4 separate regions of the Homo sapiens genome follow, and all the other regions are linked to region 3. Evidence: fine-mapped expression QTL. A gene starts in region 3. Each other region holds a variant in brackets. All regions are shown on one strand. Distances are between the middles of the regions. Region 1 holds the start of LOC124906357 (small nucleolar RNA U13). Region 2 holds the start of FANCD2 (FA complementation group D2). Region 3 holds the start of CRELD1 (CRELD disulfide isomerase 1). Region 4 holds the start of PRRT3 (proline rich transmembrane protein 3).

What was found. PIP is the estimated chance that this variant, and not a neighbour inherited with it, causes the effect.
Region 1: its variant is fine-mapped to the expression of CRELD1 in whole blood (INTERVAL, PIP 0.98).
Region 2: its variant is fine-mapped to the expression of CRELD1 in subcutaneous fat (FUSION, PIP 0.95).
Region 4: its variant is fine-mapped to the expression of CRELD1 in whole blood (TOPMed, PIP above 0.99).

Annotation. Positions count from the first base shown.
Region 1 is chr3:10,130,040-10,138,143 of GRCh38, forward strand. LOC124906357 (small nucleolar RNA U13) reads left to right here and starts at 3,346; the gene lies at 3,346-3,449. The variant C/T (reference allele first, on the strand shown) is at 3,113.
Region 2 is chr3:10,020,769-10,028,870 of GRCh38, forward strand. FANCD2 (FA complementation group D2) reads left to right here and starts at 5,669. Exons shown (of 44, transcript NM_001018115.3): 1 at 5,669-5,705; 2 at 7,857-7,953. The coding sequence starts at 7,890. It also overlaps the pseudogene CIDECP1. RefSeq lists enhancers at 3,860-4,496, 5,132-5,767, 5,768-6,402. The variant T/A (reference allele first, on the strand shown) is at 4,353.
Region 3 is chr3:9,929,046-9,937,141 of GRCh38, forward strand. CRELD1 (CRELD disulfide isomerase 1) reads left to right here and starts at 4,789. Exons shown (of 11, transcript NM_001077415.3): 1 at 4,789-4,875; 2 at 5,375-5,567; 3 at 5,790-5,872. The coding sequence starts at 5,394. It overlaps IL17RC (interleukin 17 receptor C), which reads left to right. Exons shown (of 19, transcript NM_153460.4): 13 at 807-852; 14 at 983-1,104; 15 at 1,355-1,414; 16 at 1,850-1,898; 17 at 3,563-3,658; 18 at 3,775-3,813; 19 at 3,908-4,576. The coding sequence ends at 4,548. RefSeq lists silencers at 3,761-3,820, 4,401-4,730 and an enhancer at 4,831-5,200.
Region 4 is chr3:9,951,054-9,959,157 of GRCh38, forward strand. PRRT3 (proline rich transmembrane protein 3) reads right to left here and starts at 1,355. Exons shown (of 4, transcript NM_207351.5): 1 at 1,269-1,355. PRRT3-AS1 (PRRT3 antisense RNA 1) reads left to right here. Exons shown (of 4, transcript NR_046734.1): 4 at 3,551-3,734. RefSeq lists a silencer at 854-1,393. The variant C/T (reference allele first, on the strand shown) is at 4,499.

The DNA of each region.
Region 1 (8,104 bases), 200 kb after region 3:
ATGCTCAATGAGTACGTATATAAGGTTGTTCCAAAAGTATTTCAGATTTCCAAATGCTGAAAAAATCCCAAATCCAAAACACCTCTGGTCCCAAGCATTTCAGATAATACTCAGCCCGTACTATAAGCCACACTAAGTAGAGTACAGGCCAGGCGTGGTGACTCACACCTATAGTCCTAGCACTTTGGGAGGCTGAGGCAGGAGAATTGCTTGAGCCCAGGAATTTGAGACCAGCCTGGGCAACATAGTGCGACCCCCCTCTATAAAAGCAGTTTTTAAATTAGGAGGGTGTGGTGGCACAAGCCTATAGTCCCAGCTACTGGGAAGGCTGAAGTAGGAGGATCGCTTGAGCCCAGAAGGTCGAGGCTGCAGTGAGCTATGATCATGCCACTGCATTCCAGCCTTGGTGACAGAGTGAGACACCATCTCAAAAACATGGTGTGGGGGCTGGGTGCTGAGGCTTATGCCTCCCAGCACTTTGGGAGGCCGTGGCGGATGGATCACTTGAGGCCAGAAGTTCAACACCAGCCTGGCCAACAGCAAAACCCTGTCTCTACAATAAAAAGAAAAATAGAAAAAATAAACAAATAAACATGGTGGTGGGGACAGGAAGCCTGTTGTTCATCTCTAGGCTCTTTCCCAGTATTTATACTCAGATTCATGCTGTTGCCTGCAAAAAAGGTTGGCCCCCAGTTGCCTCTGGATAATATGATTTAGAAAATTTGCTCTGGCAGTTTGCAGACAATTGCTGCCGTAAATAATTGTTCAAAACTTCATGGCTGGGTGCAGTGGCTCACACCTGTAATCCCAGCATTTTGGGAGGCCAAGGTGGGCAGATCGCTTGAGGTCAGGAGTTCGAGACCAGCCTGGTCAATATGGTGAAACCCCATCTCTACTAAAAATGAAAAAAAAAAAAAAATTAGCCAGGCTTGATGATGTGTGCCTGTAATCCCAGCTACTCGGGAGGCTGAGGCATAAGAATCGCTCGAACCTTGGAGGTGGAATTTGCAGCAAGTTGAGGTCATGCCACTGCACTCCAGCCTGGGCAAGAGAGCTGGATTCTGTCTCAAAACAATAATAACAGCAACAACAACAACTAACATCTAAAGGCCATATGACTGTCAACTAGATTATACAATAAGAAAGGCTGATTTAGAGTTCTCAGGTTTTGTTGTTGTTGTTGTTTGTTTTTTGTGTTTTTTTTTTTGAGACAGGGTCTTTCTTTGTTACCCAGGCTGGAGTGCAGTGGCGCAATCTTGGTTCACTGCAACCTCTGTCTCCCAGGTTCAAGCGATTCTCATGCCTCAGCCTCCTGAAGAGCTGAGATTACAGGTATGCACCACCAGGCCCAGCTAATTTTTGTATTTTTAGTAGAGACAGGGTTTCACCAGGTTGGCCAGGCTGGGGTTTCTTTATTTAATTTTTCTTTATTTATTTGTTTTTTTTGTTTTTAGAGACAGGGTCTCACTATGCTGCTTAGGCTGGTCTCAAACTCCTGGGCTCAAGCAATCTTCCCGCCTTGGCCTCCCAAAGTGTTGGGCTTACAGGCATGAGCCACTGTGCCCGGCTGGTTTATTTTCTAATGAAAAGTTACCCTGGAGGATCACTGGAGGCCAGGAGTTTAAGACCAGCCTGGGCACCATAGTGAGACACCGTATCTGCTAAAAAAAAAAAAAAAAAAAAAAAAAAAAAAAGTAAAGTCACCCTGTGCACTAAATTGGCAAAAGATTAGGACTAGCAAGAATTAAAACTCACAGAACATTAGGGTGAGAAAGAATCTTAGAGATAATCTAGTCTGCCCCTGCCATTCTAGGAATATAGAAGCAAACCCAGACAGGTTGAGTGACAGACATGTCCATCCTGGTGGCAAAGCCAAAACTAAAACCTTATTCCCAGGTCAGTGCAGAGCCACTCAGAGTCTCATAAATAAGTTTTGTGTTTTCTGTACCATACCGGCCCTCTATTAGCCTCTCCCTGGATCTCACTGATACCTTGAGAGTGCAAAAAAGCAATTGTTCGTTACATTTATCTAAGTGGTGGTATCCATTGGCATCAACATTTGCATTTAGGACAAAGTTATCTTTGGCTCCTTTGAGCTTGCTACGACTATCAAGCGTGAAGTTTGTATTGTGCCTCAGCTGCATTTTCCAACCATAACAGTTTTTAAAAAAATAATTTTATTGGATAGGTGTGGTGGCTTATGCGTGTAATCCCATTACTCTGGGAGGCTGAGATGGGAAGATTGCTTGAGCCCAGGAGTTTTGAGGACAAACTGGGCAACCCAGAGAGACCGCCACCACAAAAAATAAACACAATTAGGCGGGTGTGGTGGTGCATGCCTGTAGTCCCAGTTACTCATGGGGCTGAGGTGGGAGGATCACCTAGGCCCAGGAGGTCATGGCTGTAGTGAGCCAAGATCACACCACTGAACTTCAGCCTGGGTGACAGAGCAAGACCCTGTCTCAATAAATGAATAAATGAAATGAAATGTTTCAATTCAATAAATGATAAATGCTTCAGTGTGGCTTTCACAAACATTTTGCCTAAGAAGTTGTTTATTAGCATTAAATACATTGTATGTCTATTATGTGTGAGGCACTGGAGATAAAATGAGAAACAGACAGTTTCTACTCTTAAGGAGCTTATAGTATAGTCATTTATTCACTGTATGTTCTCAAAGCAAAAGACACTAGAATGACATTTGCAGAAAAACCTCAGGAAAACACAACATACACAAAGGAGCAATGTGGTATCAACTTCACTGCATGATAAAGATACCATAGGCCAAAATTGTATTGTACATGGAAATGATGTTTGGGTTTTTGTTGCTGTTGTTATTTTTGTTTGTTTACCATTGTAAAAGTAATATATCACCACATATACATTATGGACATACACATGCATTTGAAAAGCATTAACAATTGGCCTGAATAAATATATAAAGAACTATTAAAACTCAGCAGTAAGAAAACAGCTAAATAAATGGACGAAATATTTGAACTGACACCTTGAAGACAAAAAACAGGCTGAGCCCGGTGGCTCACACCTGTAATCCAAGCACTTTGGGAAGCCAAGGCGGGTGGATCACCTGAGTTCAGAAGTTCGACATCAG[C/T]CTGGCCAACATGGCTAAACTCCGTCTCTACTAAAAATATAAAACTAGGCCAGTTGTGGTGGTGCACATCTATAGTCCCAGCTACTCAGGAGGCTGAGGCAGGAAAATCACTTGAACCTGGGAGGCGGAGGTTGCGCCACTACTCTCCAGCCTGGGCGACAGAGTGAGAGTCTGTCTCAAAAAAAAAAAAAAAAAAAAAAAAAAAAACAAGAATGGCAAACAAAATACAACAGAGTTTTTCATAGTTCATAAGCATGATGAGTGGGTTTTCATGTTCATGTGTGAGGTGTGCCTCCCTCAAACCTTGTTATGATGTCAACACATTGCCCATCTGATGTGAGAAGAAGTAAAAAAACAGTGAAAAGGCAGTTTACAGAATGGGAGAAAACATTTGCAAATCATACATCCAATAAGGAGTTAATATTCAAAATATATAAGGACCTCAATAGCAAGGAAACGATTTTAAAATGGGCAAAGGACCTAAGTAGACATTTCTCAACAGAAGACATTAAATGGCCAAAAGATAAGTGTTGGTGAGGACGTGGAGAAAACAGAACCCTCCCAGGTTCTTGGTGGGAATGTATATTAGTACAGCCATTATGGCAAACAGTTTGGAGGTTCCTGGAAAAACTAAAAATGGAATTACCATGTGATCCAACAATCTCACTTCTGGGTATATATACATAGGAAATGAAAATCAGTATTTTGAAGAGATATCTGCACTCCCATGTTCATTGCAGCACTATTCACAATAGCCACACTATGGAATCAAGTGTCCATTGCCAGACGAATGGATAAAGAAAATGTGCGCTGGGTGCGGTGGCTCATGCCTGTAATCCCAGCACATTGGGAGGCCAAGACGGGCAGATCACTTGAGATCAGGAATTTGAGACCAGCCTGGCCAACATGGCAAAACCCCATCTCTACTAAAAATACAAAATTAGCCGGGCGCAGTGGTGGGCGCCTGTAATCCCAGTTACTCTGGAGGCTGAGGCAGGAGAATCGCCTAAACCCGGGAGGCGGAGGTTGTGGTGAGCCGAGATCGCACCATTGCACTCCAGCCTGGGCAACAAGAGCGAAACTCCGTCTCAATCAATTAATCGATCAATAAAATACGTTGAACTCACAAAAGCAGGCAGTACAATGGTGGTTGCCAGGGCCAGGGGAGTTGAGATGAAACAGGGAGATATTGGTCAAAGGGTACGAGTCACCCTTTTGGTTGGGAGGAATATATTCTGGACATCTGTTATACAGCATGATGACTATAGTTAATAAATAATGTATATTTGAAAATTGTTAAGAGTGTAGTTTTTTTTTTTTTTCTAAGACGGGGTCTTGCTCTGTCACCCAGGCTGGAGTGCAGTGGTGCGATCTCGACTCACTGCAACCTCTGCCTCCTGGGTGACAGAGCAGGAGCACTGTCATCTTGGACAAACACCACCACTTTAAGTTCCAGCTCCCTTTCTAGCCTCATACATTTCAAGGAAATCACTTCTCTTCTAACCACAAGCAGCCAGAAAGAGCAGACAGTAAAACACAGATAAGACAGCTTGGGCACAGAGGGAAGTAGGGGGAAAGTCTACTTTCCCCCTACTTGGGTAACTGGGTAACTGCCAAACTTCACCCTCATACAATGTGCCCCAGTAAAACAGTGGGCCTTAATAGGCACATTTCTTTCCCTCAGGTGCACTAAGATAGGGAAGCTAAAAGCAGACTCAGGGGACATGCCTGCAGCTGCAGAAAGATGTACGGGAACAGACAACTCTCCCGCCCAGGTAAGCACAACGAAGAGACACAGAAGCAGTCGAAGCCTCTGATAAACTCTCCCACCCTGAATCCTTAAAAACTCTGTAAGATTGTGCAGCTTCTGACCTAACTTGGTCAGAAATCCCTCCCAGGTTTGAAATAAACCTGTTGACTGTCAACCCACCCTTCATGTTTCTCTCCTTTAATTCTGACACTGGGTTCAAGCGATTCTCCTGCCTCAGCCCCCCGCGTAGCTGGGACTACAAGCACCCACCACCATGCCTGGCTAATTTTTGTATTTTTAGTAGAGACAGGGTTTCACCATGTTGGCCAAGCTGGTCTCGAACTCCAGACCTCAGATGATCTGCCTACCTTGGCCTCCCAAAGTGCTGGGCTTACAGGCATGAGCCACCGTGCCCAGCCAAAAGAGTAGATCTTAAATGTTCTCACCACAAAAAAACTGAAGTAATAAATACATTAGCTTTATTTTTTAAATTTTTAATTATTTTACAAAATAGAGATAGGGTCTCACTGTGTTGCCCAGGCTGGTCCTGAACTCTGGGCTCAAGCAATCCTCCCACCTGGGTCTCCCAAAGTGCTGGGATTAACAGACGTGAGCCACTGCACTTGGCCAGCTTGATTATTTTTTAATGGCAAACAAGCTCATGAAAAGATGCTCAACATTGTTAGTCACTAGAGAAGTGTGTCCAGAATTGGTGGGTTCTTGGTCTCACTGACTTCAAGAATGAAGCTGCAGACCCTTGCGGTGAGTGTTACAGTTCTCAAAGGTGGCGTGTCCAGAGTTTGTTCCTTCTGATGTTCGGATGTGTTCAGAGTTTGTTCCTTCTGGTGGCTGCGTGGTCTTGCTGGCTCAGGAGTGAAGCTGCAGACCACCGCGAGTATTACAGCTTTTAAAGCACTGCATCTAGAGTTTTTGGTTCCTCCAAGTGGGTTCGTGGTCTTGCTGGCTTCAGCAGACCTTCACGGTGAGCGTTACAGCTCACAAAGGCAATGCGGACCCAAAGAGTAAGCAATAACAATATTTACCGCAACGACTAAAAGAACAAACCTCTCACGACATACAAATGGACCCAACCGGGTTGCCACTGCTAGCTCTGGCAGCCTGCTTTTATTCTCTTACCTGGCCCCACCCACATCCTGCTGATTGGTCCATTTTACAGAGAGCCCATTGGTCCATTTTACAGAGAGCTGATTGGTCCGTTTTGACAGGGTGCTGATTGGTGTGTTTACAATCCCTGAGCTAAACACAAAGGTTCTCCAAGTCCCCACCAGAGTAGCTAGATACAGAGTGTCGATTGGTGCATTCACAAACCCTGAGCTAGACACAGGGTGCTGATTGGTGTGTTTACAAACCTTGAGCTAGATACAGAGTGCCAATTGGTGTATTTACAATCCCTTACCTAGACATAAAGGTTCTCCAAGTCCCCACCAGACTTAGGAGCCCAGCTGGCTTCACCCAGTGGATCCTGCACCGGGGCGCAGGTGGAGCTGCCTGCCAGTCCCGCACCCTGCACCTGCACTCCTCAGCCCTCAGGTGGTTGATGGGACTGGGCGCAGTGGAGCAGGGGGTGGCGCTCGTCGGGGAGGCTCGGGTGGCACAGGAGCCCACGGAAGAGGGGGGAGGCTCAGGCATGGCGGGCTGCAGCTCCTGGGCCCTGCCCGGCTGGGAGGCAGCTAAGGCCCTGCGAGAAATTGAGCACAGCAGCTGCTGGCCCAGGTGATAAGCCCCTCACTGCCCTGGGCTTGCAGGCCGGCTGAGCCCACGCCCACCCGGAACTTGTGCTAGCCCACAAGCGCCACGGCAGCCCCGGTTCCCGCCCGCACCTCTCCCTCCACACCTCCCTGCAAGCTGAGGGAGCCGGCTCTGGCCTTGGCCAGCCCAGAAAGGGGCTCCCACAGTGCAGCCGCATGCTGGACAGCTCCTCAAGCGTGGCCAGAGTGGTGGCCAAGGCCAAGGAGGTGCCGAGAGTGAGCGAGGGCCGCGAGGGCTGCCAGCACATTGTCACCTCTCAGAAGTACAAATTAAACGTCAATAAGATACCACTATACATCAATTAGAATGGCTAAAATTTTTTTATTTTTAAAGAACAAAACCCCAGGCCAGGCGCGGTGGCTCACGCTTGTAATCCCAGCACTTTGGGAGGCCGAGGTGGGCGGATCACAAGGTCAGGAGATCGAGACCATCCTGGCTAACACGGTGAAACCCCGTCTCTACTAAAGATACGAAAAGTTAGCTGGGCGTGGTGGCGGGCGCCTGTAGCCCCAGCTACTTGGGAGGCTGAGGCAGGAGAATGACATGAACCCCGGAGGTGGAGGTTGCAGTGAGCCGAGATTGTGCCACTGTACTCCAGCCTGGGCGGCAGAGCGAGACTGTCTCAAAAAAAAAAAAAAGAACAAAACCTCAAATCTGATAATACCAACTGTAGACAAGAATGTGGAGCAACTGGAACAGTCATACATTGCTGGTGAGAATGCAAAATGATACAACTGCTCTGGGGAAACAGGTTAGCAATTTCTCATGAAGTTAAACATGTACTTTGTGTTTGACCTAGCAATCTCCTAGGTGATTCTCACCCAAGAGAAACAAAACTTATGTTTGCAAGAAACCTGTACACTAATGTATATAGCAACTTTATAATTGCTAAAAACTGGAAACAAACCAATATCTTGCAGTTGGTAAGTAGATAGTATGGAATACCCTTGGCAATAAAAATGAGTAAGTTATTATATACTACAACTTGGATGAATCTCAAATGCATTATGCTAAGTGAAAAAAAGCCAAACTCATAAGGCTACATATGATACGATTTTGTTGTGTGACATTCTGGAAAGGCAAAACTATAGGGACACAAGACAGACAGACCAGTGCTTGCCAGGGATTAACAGTGGAAGCAGGGTTTGACCATGAAGGAGTTTTGGGGGTGACAAGATACTCTGGTTTTTTTTTTTTTCTTGAGACAGAGTCTCGCTTTGTCGCCCAGGCTGGAGTGCAGTGGCACGATCTCAGCTCATTGCAAAAACTGGAAACGAAGTAAATATGGCAACATGCTAATTACATGTGACATTATCAGTATTTGCTTTATTATTGTACTTGTATATTTTAATTGGTCGACATACAAACAAGGCAAAATATATCCCCCTTAGAGAAAATTTGGAAAAGACAGAAAAGGAGATAGAACAAGTCACCAGTTGTCTTTATTTATTTATTGAAACGGAGTCTCGCTC
Region 2 (8,102 bases), 92 kb after region 3:
GAATTGGCAAACATAGAAAGTGGAGTGGAGGCTACCAGTGTCTGGAGGAGGAATGGAGACTTAGTGCTTCAGGGGGACAGAGTTTCTGGTTAAGATGATGCAAGAGGTCTAGAAATGGATGGTGGTGATGGCTGGGCAACATTGTGAACGTACTTAATGGCACTGAATTGTACACTTAAAATGGTCCAAACAATAGATTTTATGCTATACATATTTACTATAATTAAAAAAAACCTAGTGATACCACTAAGTCACTAAACTGATTCCAGTCACCAGACTGTGTTTAGGTCGAAGTGTCCCACCTCCCCTAACTGGACTGAGTTTAAGGTCTGAGACCTTTTCTTTTTCTGAGACAGAGTCTTATTCTGTCGCCCAGGCTGGAGTACAATGGTGTGATCTCGGCTCACTGCAACCTTCACATTCCAGTTTCCAGTGATTCTCCTGCCTCAGCCTCCTGAGTAGCTGGGATTACAGCAGTGTGTCACCACGCCCGGCTAATTTTTGTATTTTTAGTAAAGACGGGGGTTTCACCTTGTTGCCCAGGCTGGTCTCGAACTCCTGACCTCAGGTGATTCACCTCCCTCGGCCTCCCAAAGTGCTAGGATTACAGGTGTGAGCCACTGCCCCCAGCTGGTCTGAAACTTCTTGTTCATAATTTTGAAATAATGCAGACTACTGGTGGTAGGTAGTCTGAGGTCAAGAGGTGGCATGAGATGGTAGTATCCTGGAAGAAGTAGCCGAGGAGGAAAATGGAACTCTCAGCCACAGAACCAGGCTCAAGCCTGCCACCCACTGTTGTCTCTGGCAAGCAGACCCACACAGCCTCAGTTTCCTCAACTGCAGATTGGGTCTGCAGGAGATCAACTAAGAAAGCAAGAAGGTCTGATATGTTCTAGCTACATGTGATCTGGTAGAACTCTTGGGATCCTGAGCAGGATTTCTCAGAAGCCCCATGTGAATAGAGATCGCCTGTGTCTTCATTTATTCTACAATCATTTAAATAACTACTATGTGTCAGCATTCACCAAGGTGCTGAAGGCCACAAAAATTCCTGCCCTCAGGGAACTTGTTCTATCTGGTATTTTGTTCATCTCTGAATCTGTAGTTACAGCATAGGGCCAGGCACACAGTGGGCACTCAGGAAACACTGAATGAAGGAACTGGAGAAGAATAGACTATCGGAAAGATGGACTAGCAGCCATGCTCTGCTGCTTGCAAGTTTTGCGGCTTTGGACTGATTCAATCACTTCAGCCTCAGTGGCTACATCCACCCAATGGGGAAGGATGCCCCAGGGCGCCACTGGAGCGGCAGAATTTGGGAAACATCACCATAACGGCATGCAGCTTCTAACCTCACATATTCTCATGCTTCCTGAGACACTTGGTTAGGCTTTCAAAATAAGTTTTAAGAAAAGTTCATTATATAGTACAAATGACTCTGGTCCATAAGACTTGCAAACTAATTCTGTCCTATGGAGGGAAGATTATTTCATCCCTCCCATCCCCATGGGAGAAAAAACCCAATTTTGTATGTATACATTTATCTCTTTTTTTCTTCTTTTTAGAGACAAGGCCTCATGCTGTTGCCCAGGCTGGAGTACACAATGGTATGGTCATATCTCACTGCAGCCTCAAACTCCTGGGCTCAGGCAATCCTCCCACCTAGCTGGGATTATAGGCACATACTACCACTGCTCCCAGCGTGCATGCCTCTCACTATGTTGCTCAGGCTGGTCTCAAACTGTGTGTGTGTGTGTGTGTGTGTGTGTGTGTATGTGTGTGTGTGTGTGTCTCTCTCTATGTTGCCCAGGGGTGTGTGTGTGTGTGTGTGTGCGCATGTGTCTCTCTCTCTCACTGTGTTGCCCAGGCTGGTCTCAAACTCCTGGGCTCAAGAGATCCTCCTGCCGTGTGTGTGTGTAAGTGTGTGTGTCTCTCTCTCTCTCTCTCACTATTGCCGAGGCTGGTCTCAAGCTCCTGGGCTCAAGAGATCCTCCTGCCTTGAACTCCCAAAGTGCTGGGATTCCAGGTGAGAGCTACTGCACCCAGCCTATCTCATCATTCTTACTGGACCTATATATGTGTGGGATTTTGAATTCTCCTTTGAACTGATTGTAACTTCTTGCTAGTTCTCTCATTAATTAATGAATTCAATGAAATCTTTGACACATACTTTTTTTTTTTTTTTTTGGTAAGACACTTGCTGTTTTGCCCAGGCTGGAGTGCAGTGACACAATCTCGCCTCACTGTCACCTCCACCTCCTGGGTTCAAACGATTCTCCTGCTTCAGGCTCCTGAGTAGTTGGGATTACAGGCATGCACTGCCATGTCCAGCTAATTTTTGTAGAGATTGGGTTTTGCCATGTTGGCCAGGCTGGTCTCAAACTCCTGACCTCAAGTGATCCACCCACCTTGGCCTCCCAAAGTGCTGGGATTAGAGGCGTGAGCCACTATGCCTGGCCAACACATGTTCATTTTTAAAAAACTGACTAGAAGACTACTTAGGAAAACTTCCTATTTCAATGAAAAAATGTAGTTGCTAGAGTGGAAAGTAGTCATAAAAATAAAATGCATCCAGGTTCCACCAGGAGGAACATGTGCACCCCTGGGCACACGCCAGTGTTGTCCACAGCACTTCGAGAGCCCATCAGGCTCCGTGTTGTCTGATACAGGCTATGCTTTGTCAGCACCAAAGCCAGACCCAGGTGCTGAGAAGGCTGAGTCCATGTGAACAGACAGGGGCTCTCCCATTGCCCGTACCCACCTTGTCCCCAGGAAACCCCAATTTGCTCACTTCATGATGCGTTTGGCCCCACAGCAGTGCAGATCATAGGAAAGGGAGTACGTATCATAAAAAGTCGCCTTCATGTTCAGGCAGCCAATGAAGTCCTGTGGGTTCAGCTTGTACAGGTCAAAGGTTACACGGGCCACATCAATCTTCTTGGCAGGCTTATGGGAGAGGGACTGTGGGTGCCTCGTCCCCTGCATCGAGACAACCAGATGGTTAGCACCCCTAAAGACTCTCTACTTACGCTTATGATAGGCTTATGACTACTGCATTCCAGCCTATTAGTCACCGCAGTGTTAGATAGTGGCGATGATTGCACAACTTTGTGAATATACTAAAAAACCCTGAATTGTAAACTTTTAGAGGAAGGAAACCATACCACAATTAAAAGGTAAATGTAACTTACATTATATTTTATTGGACAATATTTTTCTAGACTATGAACCCTGAAGCCAGGAGCCAAGAGGTACCCTGATAAAGTCTCTGGGTAGTGATTCCACAACAGAGGGCCTGGGCTCCAGTTCCACCTCATAGAGTCCAGCCCACTTGTTCTTTCCCTGGCAGCCAAGGAGCTATGAAGTGGGGCTTCCCAGACTGGCTCTGTGGCTCCATAGGGATGGCAGAAGCATCACTGACCTTATTCCCCAGCTTCAGCCTGGGCAACAGAGCAAGACAATGTTTCAAAAAAAAAAAAAAAAAAATTCTGACAGGTATTAAACCAAAGCTGAAAAATACATGAATAAAATATATTAGACTAGGTTTGGGGATAGAATGTGTGTAAAAAATGGTTCTCGAACTTGAAGAATATACTACTGACTTTTTGGAAAGGAGAAGACATAGATTCTTAAGAATATGGAACTCTGGTTTGAGAGGTACCGAGTTTAAAGTTTTATTCTAAGACAATGTCATTTAGGCCTGGTACAGTGGCTCACACTTATAATCCCAGCACTTTGGGAGGCTGAGATGGGAGGATCCCTTGAGCCCAGGAATTTGAGACCAACTGGGCAACATAGTGAGACCCTGTCTCTGCCAAAAATAAATAGATGTCTTTCAGTTACAAATTACAAAGCTTTATCTTTATAACAGTACAAGGACTTATTTTTAGATATTCACAAAAATAAAAATACAAAATTAAAAATTTCTTGCGGAATTTGCAAACTTCAGATAACACAGATATTGAGTGTTTAGAAAATACAGGATAATTTAAGATTGCTTATTTAGGGTCTTAAAATACCTCAGGGTCATGATATTCAACTCCATTTCTACAAAACTATTCAGCAGCGTAAATATAGGAGAGCTAGATGAATTTCTTTTGATTACACTGCCTGGAAAAGTCTTGAATTATCGTAGACTGAACAAGTGTTTTTTCGTTTGTTTTTCTGGAGACAGGGTCTTGCTTTGTCACCCAGGCTGGACCAAAAAGGTCGAGGCTGCAGTGATTGAGGCTGCAATCGCAGTGGTGCGATCATGGCTCACTTCAGCCTCGAACTCCCGGGCTCAAGTGATCCTCACACCTCAGCCTCCCGAGTAGCTGGGACTACAGGCACACACCACTGCACCTGGCTAA[T/A]GTTTAAATTTTTTTGTAGAGACAGTGGTCTCATTGTGTTGCCCAGGCTGGTCTTGAACTCCAGGGCTCAAGCGATCCTCCCACCTCAGCCTCCCAAAGTATTGAGATTACAGGTGAGAGCCACCACGCCTGGCTGTGAACAAGTTTTTTGATGGCCTACCATGTGCCTTGCACTCTGCTGCATGCTATGGGGTATAGAGTAAGGCAAGGTCATGACCCTGCGCTCAGAGTTTCTGTTCAAGTGATAAAATATGCAAACGGAAAAATAATAGATACTTAATCTAGTGCAACAAGAGCGAAACTCCGTCTCAAAAATTAAATTAAGTTAAATTAAATAAATAAATAAATACTGCAATGAAGTATGTGAGGAAGTTGCCTCCACCCTAGGAAGGGAAATGATAATTACAATTCCTTACATGTCTAACAGCAGTGTTACAGATTGCAAAGCGCTTTGGTGCTTAGCATCTCAGCTAACCATTGGAACAGTAATTTGGTAGAATGCAGATTATCACACTCACTTGACTGGATGTTACAAATACTAAAAGCTATAAAGCACCAGGCACTCTTCCCAACGAAAGGGTGGGATGGGATAGTTCATAGGTAAACCCACCGAGGGTTGGCGACTAACCTAAAGGATTAACAGCACCGTTTTTGTTTTTTGTTTTTAACACTCAATACGTCCTAGATCCTGTGCTAAGGGATTTACAGACATCATCTAATTTGATTCCCACCTGTCTATGAGGGAGGTACTGTTATTATCCCCATTTCACAGAGGACAAAAGTGAAACACAGAGGTAACGGGTAAGGTCACCTTGCCAGTGGGGGCGAGACGTGAACCTAGGCAAACTGACACAACGCCTGCACTTTCTTGTCCAAGGTCACGGCGGTGTGAGGTAGGCTGGGGAAGGGAGGGCGCTGACCTGTCAGATACTTGTTCCTGGGTGAGCTTCTTGTCGCTCTCCAGCAGGATGGACACGTAGTGGCGGATCATGTCTACGAAGAGTGATAACGATGGGTAGGACCACCCAGAGGCAGATGTTGGAGTCAAGCAACAGTTCTGGCCCTGCCATCTTCACTGAAAGCTGGCTCCCAGCCGGTGATGGGCGAGCTTCTCTTCACCGGGGCGCAGTTGCTTCTCTCTGACGTCGCCTCTGGGCCTTCTCTCGCCCCTATGCCCGGCTAGCACAGAACTCTGCTGCAGCGGTGAGCCCAGCTTATTGCCTTCAGCTGGGCTGCCCGGCCTTCCACTTCCGGCGCGGAAGTTGGCGTCACGTCATGGCGCGCCTCGGTGGCGTCAGAGCGGCGTCGGGCCTGGCGGGAAAGTCGAAAACTACGGGCGGCGACGGCTTCTCGGTGAGTAAGTGGAGCAATGGTCGTAGTCTCTCGAGGCCCCGCTCCCCTGCGGCCTAATCTCTAAGTCCGGGCCGCGGTCGGCGTTCTCCTCTGGGGCTCCGCGCCCCGAACCTTGGCTTCCTCATCTGCCCTGAGATGGGATAATCCCCACAGGTACCTTTCTGCGTCATTAAAATGCGGAAACGAGAAAGGCTTTTACCCTCACCCGCTTCCCGATGAACTAATCCAGGCAGTCGGCCTCATCTCACTTCTGTTGGGCTTTTCTGGAAGCCAGATGGTATCGCACGTGTTAAAGGCGGGTGCCTGGAAGCCGGACGTGCTGACAAGACTTAGTTTTTCCATCTGCAAGATGGCTGATAATGGTTATCCGTATTAACCGAAGCGGCGATAAATAAAAAGTTTAGCACAGGGCCCGGTACCTCGTAAATGTTAACCATTATTAGAAGTCATTATAATCATCAAGAGTAAGTATAGGTGGTGAAGAGCGCAGGTGCTGAAGCCAGACTCCGAGTTAGAATCCCAGTTCTGCCCGTGATGATGAGAATAATGGTACCCACCTCAAAAAGTTTTGTGGGAAATAAATGAATTATTAAATATAAAGCACTTGAAACAGTTCTTGTTAGCTTTTAGCATTTCCCCTGCACTGCGAGCTTTTTTCACTCTGAATATTCTCAGAAATTTTCCTTATGCCGGTAACTATGCTGGGCATTAGGGACATTGAGTAAGTGAGACTGGGTTCCTGCTCTCAAAGAGCCCCAGTCTAGTGTGAGGTAAGGGCCCCTAGGTATACCCTGTGGAGCAGGGAAGCTGCAGTAGCAAACTCCCTTAGGGATAGGAGGAACACTTTTCAAGGAAGATGACATTCGATTGAATGTTTAGATCTGAGTAGGAATTTCCAGGCAAATAAGAGCACTTCAGATGAAAAGAACACCTTTGTGCAAAGGCACTGAGACCACGAAGGTTCTGATTTACAAGATTAAAAGGTCATGTGATTCAGGCACTTCCCCCACCTCTGCTGTCTGATTTCTAACTCCACATCTCCTTGTTTCAGTATGAGTATCTATTTGCCTGGACTCCTCTTCTCCTACCCCTTCTACTGGCTAACTGCTGTTTCAGCCCTCAAGTCCCTGCCTAAAAATCACTTCTTCAGGCCGGGCGCGGTTGGCTCACGCCTGTAATCCCAGCACTTTGGGAGTCCGAGGCGGGCGGATTATGAGGTTATGAGATCAAGACTATCCTGGGTAACACGGTGAAACCCCGTCTCTACTAAAAATACAAAAAATTAGCCGGGCGTGGTGGCGGGCGCCTGTAGTCCCAGCTACTTGGGAAGCTGAGGCAGGAGAATGGTGTGAACCCGGGAGGTGGAGCTTGCAGTGAGCCGAGGCTGCACCACTGCACTCCAGCCTGGGTGACAGAGTGAGACTCCGTCTCAAAAAAAAAAAAAAAAAAAATCACTTCTTTAGGCCGGGCGGCTCACACCTGTAATCCCAGCACTTTGGGAGGCCGAGGTGGGTGGATCACTTGAGGTCAGGAGTTTGAGACCAGCCTAGCCGACATGGTGAAACCCTGTCTCTACTAAAAAAAAAAAAAAAAAAATTCAAGGAGATTGTCCCTAAGAAATGGTCCTTGCTTCTCTTTACCACCCTTACTAGCAACTAGACTAAATTTCCTAGTAAGCCCTCATAGAACCTGTACTTTTATAGCACTTACATAACTGTAGTTCAGTACATTAAGGCTATTTGTTACCATACTGTAAATTCCCTGAGGACAGGGATCATGTCTGTCTAGTTCACAGTTGTAACCCCAGCACCTAGCACAGTCCCTAACATATAGTATTGAAATCATGAATTAAAGGACAGGTACGTTGGGGATAGATAATGGAGGGTCTTGAATCTCAGATGGAGAGTGATGGGTTTTATCCTTCAGCAACAGCGAAGTAGTCTGCCTAAAGAGGTAACTAAGACTTGAAAGGAAGGTAGTATTGGCTAGATGTAAGAGTTGAAATTTGCTTAGCACCTAGGTTTAGGTAGCATTAATATGGAGATGTGAGCCCCTCTGATTTTGGATAGAGCAGTTTTCTTTGAACAATAGCTTTAACTTCTCAGAATTTATCTTCTAGAGGGTAACTTCTGTTTCCCGATTTTGCTCTAGGAAGTAATTTAAGTGCACAAGACATTGGTCAAAATGGTTTCCAAAAGAAGACTGTCAAAATCTGAGGATAAAGAGAGCCTGACAGAAGATGCCTCCAGTAAGTATCTAGTCATTTGTTGCTTTATTTCCTGTAGCAATGTGTGAGGCATGTGAGAGATATAAAGTTCCTGCTTTTCAAGTGCTGAGAATCTTCAAAGTGTAATGAATGGAGTGCACAGAATTAAGGGAGAAATATCAGATTTGGGA
Region 3 (8,096 bases):
GGCTCACGCCTGTAATCCCAGCACTTTGGGAGGCCGAGGCGGGCAGATCACGAGGTCAGGACATCAAGACCATCCTGGCTAACATGGTGAAACCCCATCTCTACTAAAAATACAAAAAATTAGCCGGTCGTGGTGGTGGGCACCTGTAGTCCCAGCTACTAGGAAGGCTGGGGCAGGAGAATGGCGTGAACCTGGGAGGCTGAGCTTGCAGTGAGCTGAGAGGGCGCCACTGCACTCCAGCCTGGGTGACAGAGTGAGACTGGGCGACAGAGTGAAACTCCGTCTCAAAAAAAAAAAAAATTCACTCATTCAAGATTTTTTGAGCAGCACAAGTCACTGTTTTAGGCACTTGTGATAGACCCTAACATCTCTACCCTCATAGAACTTATATTGTAATGGAGAAAGGCAGGCAACAGACATTGTAAATAAATCATATAGTATCTTAAAATTGCATACAAATACCATGGGAAAGGGATAAGGTGGGACTGGGGTTGCAATTTTTAGCAGGGTGGTCATGTGAGAAAGGAATCTCTTTGAGAAGGTTAGATGAGAGGGGAACCATGCTCCGTAAGACATAAAAACAGCTTTAGGGTCAGAAGACGCTTTATACAGATGATCTCACAAGGCTGGGGCAGAGAAAGATGTAGTGATTCCTAATCACCCAGCCTTGAATCCACATCTGCCTCAGGTCAGATTGAGTGCAGATTCCCAACCCAACAGGCCTTCTGTTGCCTGCCCCATTCTGGTCTTTCTGCCTTTGGCTTTTGCTTTTCTTAGTGGCCCTAACCATGGTCTCTTCCCAGCAGGTGAACAGCTCGGAGAAGCTGCAGCTGCAGGAGTGCTTGTGGGCTGGTGAGTTGGGCCTGGGGGCAGCTGGGGCAGGGCCACCTCCTAGGGGTGAAGGTCAGGGCATGGGAGGCAGGCAAGTGGCCAATCCCAGCAAGGATGGGTCTTGGTCAGAGTGGCCTCTCACCCCTTCCAGACTCCCTGGGGCCTCTCAAAGACGATGTGCTACTGTTGGAGACACGAGGCCCCCAGGACAACAGATCCCTCTGTGCCTTGGAACCCAGTGGCTGTACTTCACTACCCAGCAAAGCCTCCACGGTTAGGACTGGGCGACCCTCCTCCACAGATCTCTCCAAATGCATCTCACATCTGGCCTCAAATTTTCACTCCATCCACCCTGTGCCGGTCTCTGGGAACATGGGGGGTGACTCAGACCAGGGCCATATTCAGCGGCATCACCAAAGTCTCCCAGTCCCCTCTACCTCATTCTACCCAGCTGTAGCCTGGTAGGTGCTGCCCTAAGGGTGCTACCTCCAGGTAACAGTGCCCCCATCCTTTGGCTTGGCAGAGGGCAGCTCGCCTTGGAGAGTACTTACTACAAGACCTGCAGTCAGGCCAGTGTCTGCAGGTGAGCTGGTGGAAGAAGGGCCCCACCTCAATGCCTAGGGGCAACAGGCCTAAAACTAGCACTCACCTACTGTCTATTTAGGCTTATTTTATGTTCAGCCCTGGGAAAGTTAAGAGTAGAAGAAGCACAGTTCCTATCCCCAAGGAGCACACTGTTGGCTAGACACCCATAAACAGATAACCACACCTACAGGTGCTAAGTTTTGGGTTCCAGGGAGAGCTTCCGGGAAGAATTTCTTCCTATAAGCCAGATTTGGTATGGAAGAAGTCATACCCTAGTCAGTGGGCACAGCACAAAGGCAGAGCAGCTGCAGGAACCTTAGCCGGGAGATATGCATAGTTGATGCTGGGAATTTGGAGATCAGGCCACCAGAGCTTGGTGAATATTGGAACACCTGGCTGGTGCCCTGGATTTGGTTCTGTTTGTATCTTACAGCTATGGGACGATGACTTGGGAGCGCTATGGGCCTGCCCCATGGACAAATGTGAGTATTGTAAGAACTGCCTTTCCTTTCTGTACCAGGAGTGGGGATCTTGACAGGGACCACTCTTGGGCACAGCACATGCAATGGCCTTGTCCTTCCCTGAGATCAGATAAACAGAGGGTCATTCCTTCATTCACTCAAAAAATGATGAGAGCTTGCAGGGATCGCAGGAACACCAAAAATATAAATCCTTGCCCCCGCCCCACCCCTAGAAGACTAGCAAGACATGAGCCAGTCACTTACATTTAAAGTGGGAGCTACTGAAGCACCACCAAGTGTTCAGTGCTGTAAATGCATACAATGTGGACCTGACCTGGGTGGGGTGAGGGGTGAGGGGCTCAGGGGGAAGGTTCCAGCAAAACTCTGAAGACTGAGCTAGGGGAAGGGGGTAGAGATACAGGGTCTTGGACAGGCAGGTTTCTGTCATGAGATAAAGATGCAGGAGACATGTAGGGGATTTGGATCTTATGTTGAGAGCAGCAGGAGCTACGATCAAATTTTTATATATTTCACACACACACACACACATATATATATATATATATATATATATATATATACTTATTTTTTTATTTATTTTTGAGGCAGAGTCTCACTCTGTTGCCCAGGCTGGAGTGCAATGGCGCGATCTCGGCTAACTGCAACCTCTGCCTCCCGGGTTCAAGCAATTCTCTACCTCAGCCTCCCGGGTAGCTGGGATTAATAGGCGCCTGCCACCATGCCCTGCTAATTTTTGTATTTTTAGTAGAGATGGGGTTTCACCATCTTGGCCAGGCTGGTCTTGAACTCCTGACCTCGTGATCCGCCCGCGTCGGCCTCCCAAAGTGCTGGGATTATAGTCGTGAGTCACCGCACCTGGCCCAAATTTATATTTTTAAAAGATCTCTGAGGCTGTCATGAATCAATTCAAGGCAAATCAATTGGAGGTAAAAAAAAAAAAAAAAAGACAGGGCAGGGACACCAGGTAGTTGCAGACACCCAGGACAGCAAGATCAAGGGCCCAGCAACCCTAGCTTAGGGGAGAAAAACAGCTGACATTTTAGCACTTAAGATGCTCGGCATTGTGTTAAGTATGTATTAACACATTGTGTTAAGCTTTATATGTATTAATATATTTAGTCCTCACACCAACCCTATGACACAGGTACAACTTTACAGAGGAGAAAACTGAGGCAGAGGGTGACATTACTTATTCAAAGACCCCTAAACAGATGGAGCTATATTCATCCACTGGCTCTGACACTGTGCTGTGGACTCTGGGCAAATCATTTCTTCGTTTTTTGTTTTGTTTTGTTTTGTTTTGAGAGGAGTCTCACCCTGTCGCCCAGGCTGGAGTGCAATGGCGCGATCTCGGCTCACTGCAACCTCTGCCTCCCGAGTTCAAGCGATTCTCTTGCCTCAGCCTCCCGAGTAGCTGGGATTACAGGCGTGTGCCACCACGCCCGGCTAATTTTTTGTATTTTTAGTAGAGACGGGGTTTCACCGTGTTAGCCAGGATGGTCTTGATGTCCTGACCTCGTGATCTGCCCGCCTCGGCCTCCCGAAGTGCTGGGATTATATAAAGGCATGAGCCACCGCACCCGGCCCAATTCATTTCTGTTAAGTCTCAGTTTTTCTTCTCTGTGGAGGGTAAGTTTCTAACTCTTCTTCTCTGGGTCTCCCAGACATCCACAAGCGCTGGGCCCTCGTGTGGCTGGCCTGCCTACTCTTTGCCGCTGCGCTTTCCCTCATCCTCCTTCTCAAAAAGGATCACGCGAAAGGTGAGCGCTTCCCGGCTCCCCATTCCCCTGGGGGAGGACCAGAGTGGCTGTGGGAGTTCTCCGAGGGAAAGCGGCGGCCGAGCTCACTGGCTGCCTCCGCCCCTCTCCCCTAACAGGGTGGCTGAGGCTCTTGAAACAGGACGTCCGCTCGGGGGGTGAGTGGGAGCAAGCGCTGGGCGGAGGGCCGCCCCCGGGGAGCCAGGCCTGTGCCAGCTCACCTCTTCCCTCCCCATCTGTTTTCTCCGGCAGCGGCCGCCAGGGGCCGCGCGGCTCTGCTCCTCTACTCAGCCGATGACTCGGGTTTCGAGCGCCTGGTGGGCGCCCTGGCGTCGGCCCTGTGCCAGCTGCCGCTGCGCGTGGCCGTAGACCTGTGGAGCCGTCGTGAACTGAGCGCGCAGGGGCCCGTGGCTTGGTTTCACGCGCAGCGGCGCCAGACCCTGCAGGAGGGCGGCGTGGTGGTCTTGCTCTTCTCTCCCGGTGCGGTGGCGCTGTGCAGCGAGTGGCTACAGGATGGGGTGTCCGGGCCCGGGGCGCACGGCCCGCACGACGCCTTCCGCGCCTCGCTCAGCTGCGTGCTGCCCGACTTCTTGCAGGGCCGGGCGCCCGGCAGCTACGTGGGGGCCTGCTTCGACAGGCTGCTCCACCCGGACGCCGTACCCGCCCTTTTCCGCACCGTGCCCGTCTTCACACTGCCCTCCCAACTGCCAGACTTCCTGGGGGCCCTGCAGCAGCCTCGCGCCCCGCGTTCCGGGCGGCTCCAAGAGAGAGCGGAGCAAGTGTCCCGGGCCCTTCAGCCAGCCCTGGATAGCTACTTCCATCCCCCGGGGACTCCCGCGCCGGGACGCGGGGTGGGACCAGGCGCGGGACCTGGGGCGGGGGACGGGACTTAAATAAAGGCAGACGCTGTTTTTCTACCCATGTGGCCCACACGCGTCTCCGTTTCAGTGGCGGGGCTGGCAAACGTCATTCCCTAGCCCCGCGGCCCTTTAAAGCCCGGACAGGTGCAGCTCGGTGCCGCCTCTGGTTGGCTGGCGTGGGGTGACGTAATGGCACATGGCCCGTCGCCATTGGCTGGGCGGCAAGCTCCGCCCCCTGGACTGCGGCGCGGGTGGGGGTTGTGCGTTTTACGCAGGCTGTGGCAGCGACGCGGTGAGGAGACGGCCCACGGCGCCCGCGGGCTGGGGCGGTCGCTTCTTCCTTCTCCGTGGCCTACGAGGGTCTGGATCCTTCTCTGCCGGCTCGTGGGCCGTGCCTTTGCCCTTCTGCGAGGCCCTGAATCTGATCCCTTCCCTTCATATCCGGATCCGGGCTCCTCCCTCCAAGCCCGGGGTTCCGGACACCTCCCCCAAGACAACCCCTCTGGCCTCCTCTCCTTCAGTACTTGGAATCTGATCTCTTCTCCCTAATTCTGCGGATCCGGCCCCTAATATTCTTTATCAGACCCTCAGACAAGAGGCTGACTTCTGCCCCCTTGTCAAGGAGCGAGGCCACTTTCCTCTCCACCCCATGCTAGCGAGGATAACTTATTTCTCTTCTGGAATTGCATCTTATGCGCCTTTCCCCACCCATCCCCACAGCCCCTGCAATACCCAGTTTGGCCTCTTTTGCTTGTAATAACGCAGATCCCAGCGCCACGGCACCTTAGAACAGACCTTTTTCTTTCTCGCGTGGGGCCTGACTCCTTCAGTGAAGCCTCTCCACGCCCTCTATCTGCAGGTCCCCAGCCTGGGTAAAGATGGCCCCATGGCCCCCGAAGGGCCTAGTCCCAGCTATGCTCTGGGGCCTCAGCCTCTTCCTCAACCTCCCAGGACCTATCTGGCTCCAGCCCTCTCCACCTCCCCAGTCTTCTCCCCCGCCTCAGCCCCATCCGTGTCATACCTGCCGGGGACTGGTTGACAGCTTTAACAAGGTGGGTGCACCGGCAGCCTCGTTAGAGGGGAACACAGCGATTTAGAGTGGGGAACTCTGGGATGCAAATCTGCGTGGATTTAAGTTTCATCTTGGTCTCTTACTAGTTGTATGGCCCTAGGCAGGTTGCCTTTCTGTGCCTCAGTTTCCTAGTCAGTAGAACAGTGAAGTGCTAGCATGTGCCAGGCACTGTACTTAGCTATTACTAATTTTCTGTTTCCAGGGCCTGGAGAGAACCATCCGGGACAACTTTGGAGGTGGAAACACTGCCTGGGAGGAAGAGAATTTGTCCAAATACAAAGACAGGTAAGGGGCTGCTGGGGGAAGGGGTGTATATTCCCCTCCCCGCCAAATCTCTGCTCTGCTGGTGTAGGGCTAGGAACTCTTGGGGAGCACTTATTCATTCAACAAATAGCACTGAACATCTATAGTATAGCAGTAAACAAGGCAAGCAAAATGCCCCCTTCCTGGAGCTCACATTCTAGTAGAGAAGACAAGCAGTGAATGAGTAAGTGAATAATATTATGTCAGATGAAGAACAAACAGTGAAGCACGGTAGACTGCAGGACGGTGGGAGGCAAGGTGTTCAAGGTTTGGCATTTGAACAGAGAGACAGGAAGTGAAGAAGCGAGCTATGTGACAGGGAGGGAATTGGGCAGAGGATGGGACTGAGCTTGGTGTATTTGAGAAGTGGCTGGAGTGGAGTGAGCCAAGGGGAGAGTGCTAGAAGGTGAAGGCAAAGGCTTAAGCCTCGAGGGCTACAGAAAAGAGTTTAGATTTTTTTTGGAGTGTAATGGGAAGCTCTTGGAAGGCTATGAGCAGAAAAAGTGATACTGTCTTCTCTACACCTTTAAAGATTACTCACACTGCTATGTAGCAAACGGATTGTAAGGGGCAAGGGCGGAGGAAGCAGGGAGACCAGTTTGGGAGGCAAGTGCATCATCTAGGTACAAAGGCAACACAAGCTAGTGTGGTATCTAGTGGAGGACATGATGAAGAGGTCACAGTCTGGGTATATTTTGCAGAGAGAACAATAGGACCTGGTGATAGATTCATTATGGGTATAGAGAAACAGTAGAATAAAAGATGCTTACTAGATTTTGGGCCTGAGCAACTGGGTGAGTAGTGCAGCTGTTTTCTAAGATGGTGAGATGCGAAACCGAGAAGGTTTAGGGGAGGGGTGGGATGTGGTGTTCTTTGAACGTATTGGGCTGAAATGTCCATTAGACATCCAGGTAGACTCCATACAAATCTGGAATTCAGAAAAGAGTAGGAATTGGAAACAGGAATTTGAGAGTTGTCATTATATAGTCAGTATGTAAAGAAAGCCATGGGAAGGATACAGAAAGCCATTATATAGTCAATATATGTAATACAGAAAGCCATTTATATAGTCAGTATGTAAAGAAAGGCATGGGAAGGATACAGAAAGGCGAGCCCTGAGCCCTCCAGCTTTTCAAAGTCAGATGGAAGAGGAGTCAGCAAAGGCTCAGAGTTAGACCTGGTTGTCGGTTCTTAACCTCTCAGAGCCACAGTTTCTTCACCTGTAAAATGGGGATATTAATACCTGGTTTGCCTATTTCATAGAAGTGTGGAAAAGGCTTAACTGGGATGCCCACTAGAAATAAAGGTTTTGTTATTATGTAACATTGGTCATTTTCTCTTTTCCTTCGCCGGGCCTGAGTTTCCTCATTCAGGAATGAGGGGATTGGCTAAGACAACCCCAGAGGCACTTCCAGCTTTGTAATGGCTCCTGCGTTGCTTGCTTTTTTAAATCACCTCCTATATGCCAGGCACTGTGCCAGACCCTTTAAATACAGGATATAAGACATCAAATATTTATATATGTGTGTATATATATGTGTGTGTGTATATATATATGTGTGTGTATATATATGTGCATATATGTCTGCGTATATATATGTGCGTATATATATGCGTATATATATATATATATGTATATATTTGTGGTAAAATACACATAAAAAATTTCCCATTAAAGACATTTAATAATATTTACAATGTTGTGTAACCATCACCACTATGTAGTTCCAGAACATTTTCATTACCCCCCCAAAAAATCCTATACCTATTACACAGCCACTCCCTATTCTCCCCTTCCCTCGGCTCTTGGCAATCACTAATTTGTGTTAGTCAAGCAGAAATTATGGATTTGCTGATTTCATTGGAATCATAAAATATGTGGCCTTTTGTGTCTGGCTAGTTTCACTTAGCATAATGTTTTCAAGGTTCACCCATACCGTAGCATATATCAATACTTATTCCTTTTTATGGCTGAATAATATTCTCATTTGGCTGTACCACATTTTGTTTAACCATGCATCAGTTGATGGACATCTGCATTGTTTCTACCTTTTGGCTGTTGTGAATAGTGCTGCTATGAACATTGTCTACAAGTTTTCGTTTGAACACCTGTTTTCCATTCTTTTGGGTCTATATCCAGTAGTGGAATTGGCAGGTCCTATGGCAATTCCATGTTTTACTTATTGAGGAACTGCTTTTCCACAGT
Region 4 (8,104 bases), 22 kb after region 3:
ACACATTCCTCTTCCCGCCTTCCTTCCCTCATCTTCCTGGGCACTTGTCACTCTGGTCTGATTCTATAATAATCTCCTGCCTCTTATTTCAAACCTGCAGCCTCCAGTATATACCTGGCCCCACGTGGATATCCCCTAAAAGTTCCTGTTCTCGAGAGCCTGTCAGTGGGCCAGGGAGGCAGGAAGGGGCCCCACCACCAGGAGAGGTTTCATGGAGGGTGCGAGAGCTGAAGCCTGGGTGTGTTTGGCGGCAGAGGCCCTGCTCTTTTCCTCTCTGGGGAGCAGCTGTCCCCAAAGCTTCCTGGCTGTTAACCCATGGTGGCTCACAGACACCTTAAGAAGCCACTGAAAACCCCTGGTGCTCTCCCGGGGAAAAGACCCAGGCTCACCGAAAGTTGTGAACAATTTCAAGGGGTTCAAAGACCTTTGAGTCCCATCCTCCAAACTCGAGTTTAGACTCTGTCTTAAAGCCTTGTTAGTTCATTTCTCAAACATTCACGGAGCCCCATGGGCTGCTCCTGGTCTAGGCTAGGTGCTGGGGGCCCAGAGACAGGGCTTTGCTCCAGGGTTGGGAGTAGGGGTGCGCTGAGACGCCCCTAACACAGGTACTGGCTAAAAACAGTGCTCCTGTGTTTAGTTCTTTCCCAGTGAGGCTCCTGCGCTGAGCTTAGCAACACGTCACTCCGCCCTCCCAATACAAGGTGTGGGAACAGCCATTTCACAGGGGGAAGAAACGGGGGTTCAGAGAGGGTGAGCAACTCCCCCAAGGTCACACAGCTGAGTGGACACAATCGGGGTTGTGAAACCCTCGGAGGCTCATCTTCCACAGGAGGTCCAAAAAGCTTTGCCGAGAAAACGGCTGAATGGGGCCTCCAAAGATAAACATGCCATCTGCCTACCACTGCCAACCCAAGAGATGTGGGCACCTGCGGACAAGGCGGGGGCTTGCCCAGCCCTGGGCTCCCACTCTGCTGGAGAGGCTGTGGGGGGTGGCGGATCTCTCTGCCGCAGGGACTGGGGAGAGGCCGGCCTGGGGGCAGGGCGAGGCCGTTGCGGGGCAGCCTCGGAGCTGGTCCATCTCGGGTTACCTCTCCTCCTCCTCCTCCTCCTCCTCCGTCTCCTCTCTCCCTGGCTCCGCGCCTTCCCGCAGTGTCCTGGATGGGGGTGGGCGCCGTGCAGGCCTGGTCGCCTGCGCCCGCGACGGGGGCAGCAGGCCACGCTCCCCGTCGGGGTCCCGCCATCGCCCCCTCCCTGGGCCAGCTCCTCACCTGCGCGCCGCAGCCCCCGTGTTCACCTTGCGCGCGTCCCTGCAGCCGATCGCCGCGCCGCATCCTCCGAGATGCTCAGACTCGGCTAACAGAGCCCGGCGCTGCCGATCGCGAGCCCGCCCACAGGAGCGCAGCCCTGCTTAACTCTTTCCCCTTAGGGGTGGACTCTTCTGTCAACCCTGACTTCCCCTCGCTCAGGGATTGTCAGGGCTCAGAGTGGAACCGAGGTCATCTCTGAGGGATGTGGAAATGTCTTCTGCAGCATCCCTGAAAACGGGGCAGCTAGCCTCTGCTTGCATACCTCATGGGACGGGGAGCTCACTTCCTTTCTATATCCCTACATCCTTTTAGGTAAATCCTACCTACAGCTTGGTATGTATCCTTCAGATTCTTCTCAATGTACAGTTACATGTACATCTTAAATAGAAATGACATCATACTGTATACTTTTTTTTTTTTTTTTTGAGACAGTCTTGCTCTGTCGCCCAGGCTGGAGTGCAGTGGCGTGATCTCGGCTCACTGCAACCTCCGCCTCCCAGGTTCAAGTGGTTCTCCTGCCTCAGCCTCCCTAGTAACCATGCCTGGCTAATTTTTATATTTTTAGTGGAGACAGGGTTTCACCATGTTGGCCAGGGTGGTCTCGAACTCCTGACCTCAGGTGATCAGCCCGCCTCGGACCCCCAAAGTGTTGGGATTACAGGCGTCAGCCACCGTGCCCAGCCACTGTACACATTTCTGTAATTTGTCTTTTTCACTTTCCAATATATTCTGGCACATTTTTCATGTAAATATCTATAGATCTATATCATTTCTTGTATCCACTGTTGAGAATTCCAGCATATGGTCAGCTAGTTATTGTTCTTTATCCTGTCCCCTGTAATTGGACATAGGTTGTTTCTAGCCTTTTGCTCGCAGGGATAATGGAGCAGGGGCCATTCCTTGCTTAACACATCACTGTGCACGTACACTAGTGCACCTACCAGATAATTGCCTAGCCGAGGCATGGTAGTAAAATCTATGGGTCTGCATATGGGGCTGGTAGACACTGTCAAAATGTTCTTGGTCTTTCTTTGAACACCTCTTGATATACTAAACATCCATTATTAGGCTCAATTCCTTAAGGGAAAGCCACACAGGAAATATATGTGGTTATCAAAAATGAGATAGGGCTGGGTGCAGTAGCTCACACCTGTAATCCCAGCACTTTGGGAGGCCTAGAGAGGAGGATCATTTTGAGCCCAGGAGTTCAAGACCAGCATGGGCAAGATGGTGAGACTTTTTTAAATTAAAAAACAAACAAAAAAACAAAAAAACTAGCTGGGCGTGGTGGTACATGCCTGTAGTCCTACCTACTCCAGAGGCTGAGGCCAGAGAATCATTTGAGCCCAAGAGGTCAAGATTGCAGTAAGCTATGGCCACTGGAGTGTCACTGGAGTGCATTGACCACTCTGTCCATTGACCACAAGCTGTGTCACTGGAGTGCAATGACCACTGCACTCCAGCCTGGGCAGTAGAGCGAGACTGACAAAAAAAAAAAAAAAAAAAAAAAAGAAGAAGAAGAAGAAGAAGAAAATTTGGCCTGTATAATGGCTCATGCCTATATTCCCAGCACTTTGGGAGGCCAAGGCTGGAGGACTGCTTGAACCCAGGAGTTCGAGACCAGCCTGGGCAACATGGCAAAACCCCATCTCTACCAAAAAAAAAAAAAAAAAATTAGCCAAGTGTGGTGGTGCGCACCTGGGTCCCAGATACTCAGGAGGGTTATGTGGGAGGATCACTTCAGTCCAGGAGCCAGAGGTTGCAGTGAGCCAAGGTCGCACCACCGCACTCCAGCCTGGGTGACAGAAAGAGACCCAGTATCAAATAAAAAATCAAATTTCACTTAAAAAAGAAAAAGAAAAAATTCTTCCTAGGGCTGAGCTGACATCTCCCTCCCAATGGCTTCCTACCTCTAGCTCTCACAGAAAAGCAATACTCAGGCCCCAGTTGTGTCTGACGTGTTGCAGTTTGAAGAATATTCCATCCCTAATGGCTGGTAAATGGTGGGGCCTGCATTCAGCTGCTTGACTCTGGGAGAGGGTGCAGGCCTTGCCCGTTTCACACATGACCTGACCAGCTCTGTTTTCCTTGTTGGAGCCACTTCAGAATTGTAAAGGCATCTCTCATTTCTCTAGAGTCTTCTTTCTCCAGGACAAACACTCCGAGTTTTTCAGCTGTTCCTTGCAGGACAGGATTCTGGGTTCTCACCATGTGGAATCTCTTCTCTGTTTGCTTCTTACCAGCTCAACAACGCCCCTCTGAAAGTAGGACTCTTGGAAATGAACCTTGTTGGGAGTAAAGCTGAACCTTCACCTCTCCTTTCCAGGATTCTACTCCATTCATACGGCCTCACACTGAATTAATGTTTCTAGCAGCCACATTACTTTGTTACCCAATTGATCTAGTAGTAAAGTCTTCCCATCTCTTCATGTACCACTGGTTTATTGACTCTTAATGTAGGATTCTACATTTGTTTGTTGTTTATCTTGTTAGATCCAGCCTGTTGTTACAATCTTGTAGGAAGTTAACTGGATCCTGATTCTACATATAGCTGATTGACATTTTGGAGGGTTTTGCAATAACCATTTCCCTTCCTGACAGCATCCTAACTTCCTTTGGGGGACCTGTGTCTGTTCCCATGTGGGCAGTCTTGGCCAGAATGCAGTCCTAGGGCCCCCTACAGAAGCTGAGGAGTCTGGATCCTTCCTCTCACTTCCCCTTGTGAACTCGCTGGGAGCCTCCTTTGGAGATGTTGAGATTCCCTCCACAGGCTCAGAGCTGGCCCGGTTCCCTTCCTCAGTTTCTCCTGAGAAGGGCAGGTGTGTGAGTGCCTGACCTCCCAGTCCATGCAGGGCCATCTGGCTGCTTGCTGGCTGCCCTCTTTGGAACCAGGGGCCCCAATCCCATCGCGTTTCTAAACCACCAACCGGCAGGCATTCTGAGATTCCAAACAAATGCAAGAGAGATTAGGATCCCTTTGGCTAGAGGCCAAGGTGAAAGCTGATCCTGCGGAAAGAGGAGACTGGCTGGGGTGGAGGTGAATGTAAGCGGGGAACACGAGGTGCGCAGGTGTGGACGGGGAGTATCTCAGCTCCAGATGGAGCTCCCAGCATCCTTCTGCAGACTCTGGGACGGCGGGGATAAATGGAAGGTGACTCCAAGTATACAAGGGATGGTCAATATCTCCTGTT[C/T]ACCAAGCACTTGGTCTGCCAAAAACTATGCTACACACCATTATTCTTTTTAAGTCCTCATGACAACCCTAGGTTTTATGTTTTTCATTATACAGCTGGCAAGCTGAAGCTCAGAGAAGTTCAATAACTTGTTAAAGGTCATGCAGCAACTAAGGGGCCAAGCCACAGGCCTGACTTTAGAACTAGTGCTCTTTGTTTTGAGATGGAATCTTGCTTTTGTATTTTTAGTAGAGGCAGGGTTTCGCCATGTTGGCCAGGCTGGTCTCAAACTCTTGGCCTCAAGTGATCAGCCTGCCTCGCCCTCCCAAAGTGCTAGGATTACAGGCATGAGTCACCACGCCTGGCCAGAACCAGTGCTCTTAATAGTAATGACACCCTCCTGCCCCTCTGGAAGAACCTGAGAGAGGAAAGTGGGGGAGAGGGAAACCCCAGGCCTTCCAGGCGGCCCCTACTGTGTTAGGAGTTAATTGAGTCCATGAAAATAGGCCCTCCAGTTTGGATCTCTGTTGACTTCAAACCAACAGAGCTGAAAGTTGTTGTGACTCCCCAAGGAAAGAGTGAGAAAGAAAAGGCAAAGAAGATGGGGCTGGCAATGATGAAATCTCCTGCTTAGACAAAGCCCAGGACAGTTGGTTGGCATTTTCATTCTGGCTGGTTGCTCTGGCAGGCATGAGAAAATAAACAAAAGGGAGAACAGGTGGGAGAAAGTGCAGGCTGGTGAACCTTCTCTGTGCTCTGCCCACTGTCCTGAACTCTGAGGGCACGGGGAGTTATACTCTTTTACCAAACTGGCCAAATTCAGCCTGAAGGGCTCCTGGAGTCTTAGCCTACTCATTCTCAGATTTTAGCTTCCACCAACACCAACTAAACAAACCTGATCTTTTTAAAGAGGTTTTTTGTTTGTTTTTTGAGACAGAGTCTCTCACTTTCACCCAGGCTGGAGGGCAGTGGCACAATCTCAGCTCACTGTAACCTCCGCCTCCTGAGTTCAAGCCGTTTTCCTGCCTCAGCCACCCGAGTAGCTGGGACTACAGGAATGCACCACCAGGCCTGGCTGATTTTTGTATTTTTGGCAGAGATGGGGTTTCACCATGTTGGCCAGGCCGGTCTCAAACTCCTGACCTCAAGTGATCTGCCTGCCTTGGCCTCCCAAAGTGCTGGGATTACAGGCGTGAGCCACCACACCTGGCCAAGAGTTATTTATTTTTTTTGTGTGTGAAATCTGATGCCACTTTAAAATCAGCAGATCCTTACCCCATTCCCTTTCACTCTCAATTCCCACTTTCTGGAAGTAATTATTGTCAAGTCTTTCTGGTACTTCTGGTTATTTCTTCTGGTATTTATCCTATTTTCACATCAGATTTATGCGGCTAATGTTAATTATTTTCAGTTTTGGGGGTTAATCTATTGACTACTATGAAGATAATATGAAAATGTAGTTCTTCTATTACTTTCCATATTTTTCTGTAGTTTTTTGGTATCATTATTCTGCATTTACAATACTAGAACTGTGAAACAAGTATTCAAGCTGATTCAAGAAGTGTGCTGTGAGGATAATAATTCCCTCTCCAGACATTGTTTCTCCTGCAGTAAGTACTGCTTGGTTTTTCATTTGCTTAATTTTCCATGCATCTATCACTAATTCATTCCCCTTAATCTTTCCTTAAAGTGAAAAACAATTGAAAGATTTAATTTCCCATTCAGATAACATTTTCAGAGATTCACAGAATTCTACAGAGACAACAAACAACATGGTTTCTTCGACAGATGAATGTCTTGAAAAAAAAGGGAGGGAGGGAAAACTGTTACATAAGAGATTTAAGAGATATAGCAACCAAATGCCACGTGGGGGCCTCGTTGGGAGCCTCAGTCAAATAAATCCACTGTGGAAAAGACATTTTAAGACAATTAGGGAAATATGAACACAGATTGAGTCTTAGGACATATTAAGGTATAAGCATGTTTGCATCGGGTGAAATAATGGCCTTGTGGGTTATGTGTAAAAAATTCCATATCTGTTATGATACCTACGACTTATGTGTGAAATGACATACTTGTGATTTACTTTGAAAATATCCAACTTCCCTGCTCCCTCCCCTCCCACAAAAAAGTGATTTTGGGAGATACATTAAAAAATTCTGGGCCAGGGGCAGTGGCTCACGCCTGTAGTCCCAGCACTTTGGGAGGCCAAGTCAGGTGAATCACCTGAGGTCAGGAGTTCGAGACCAGCCTGGCCAACATGGTGAAACCCCGTCTCTACTAAAAATCCAAAAATTAGCCAGATGCAGTGGTGCACGCCTATAATCCCAGCTACTCGGGAGGCTGAGGCACGAGAATCGCTTGAACCCGGGAGGCAGAGGTTGCAGTGAGCCAAGATCGTGCCACTGCACGCCAGCCTGGGTGACAGAGCAAGATTCTGTCTCAAAAAAAAAAAAAAATTCTGGTAAAATAGTGATAATTACTTTATTATTATTTATTTATCGTTTTGAGACAGGGTCTCGCTCTGTCTTCCAGGCTGGAGTGCAGTGGTGCAATGATGGCTCACTGCAGCCTTGACCTCCTGGGCTCAAGCAATCCTTCCACCTCATCCTCCTCGGTAGCTGGGACTACAGGCATGTGCCACCATGCCTGGCTGATTTTTTTTTTCATTTTCTTGTGAGGCCTCACTATGTTGCCTAAACTGGTCTCCAACTCCCAGGCTCAAGTGATCCTCCCGCCTCACCCTCCCAAAGTACTTGGAATGCAGGCATGAGACATTGTGCCTAACCTATTTTACTGTTTTAGAGACAGGGTCTCAATCTGTTGCCCAGGCTGGAGTGCAGTGGCACAGTCATGGCTCACTGTAATCTTCAACTTCTGGGCTCAAGCAACCACCCACCTGCCTCAGGCTCCTGAGTAGCTGGGACTACAGGCATACGCCACCATGCCCAGATAACTTTATTTTTTGTAGAGACAGGGTCTTGCTATGTTGCCGGGCCAGTCTTGAACTCCTGGCCTCAAGCAATCCTCCCACCTCAGCCTCCTAAAGTGCAAGGATTACGGGCGTGAGCCACTGCACCTGGTCAGTACTTTATTCTTTTTACTGCTGAATAATACGCCATTGTATGGCTATACCATATTTCATTTATCCATCTGTTAGCTGATAGACATTTGGGTTGTTTCCCACCTTGTGGCTACTATGAATATTCATGTATACATAATTGTGTAGACATGTTTTCTTTTTCTTCTTTCTTTTTTTTTTTTTTTTTTTGAGACAGAGTCTCGCTTTGTGGCCCAGTCGGTAGCCCAGGCTGGAGTGCAGTAGTGCGATCTCAGCTCACTGCAACCTCTGGCTCTCATGTTCAAGCAATTCTCCTGCCTCAGCCTCCTGAGTAGCTGGGACTACAGGAGGCTCGATCCACCTGCCTTGGTCTCCTAAAGTGCTGGAATTACAGGCATGAGCCAACGCACCTGATCTGGACATATGTTTTCTTTTCTTTTTTTTTTGAGATGGAGTCTCACCCTGTTGCCTAGACTGGAGTGCAATGGCATGATCCTGGCTCACTGCAACCTCCACCTCCCAGGTTCAAGCGATTCTCCTGCCTCAGCCTCCCGAGTAGCTGGGAT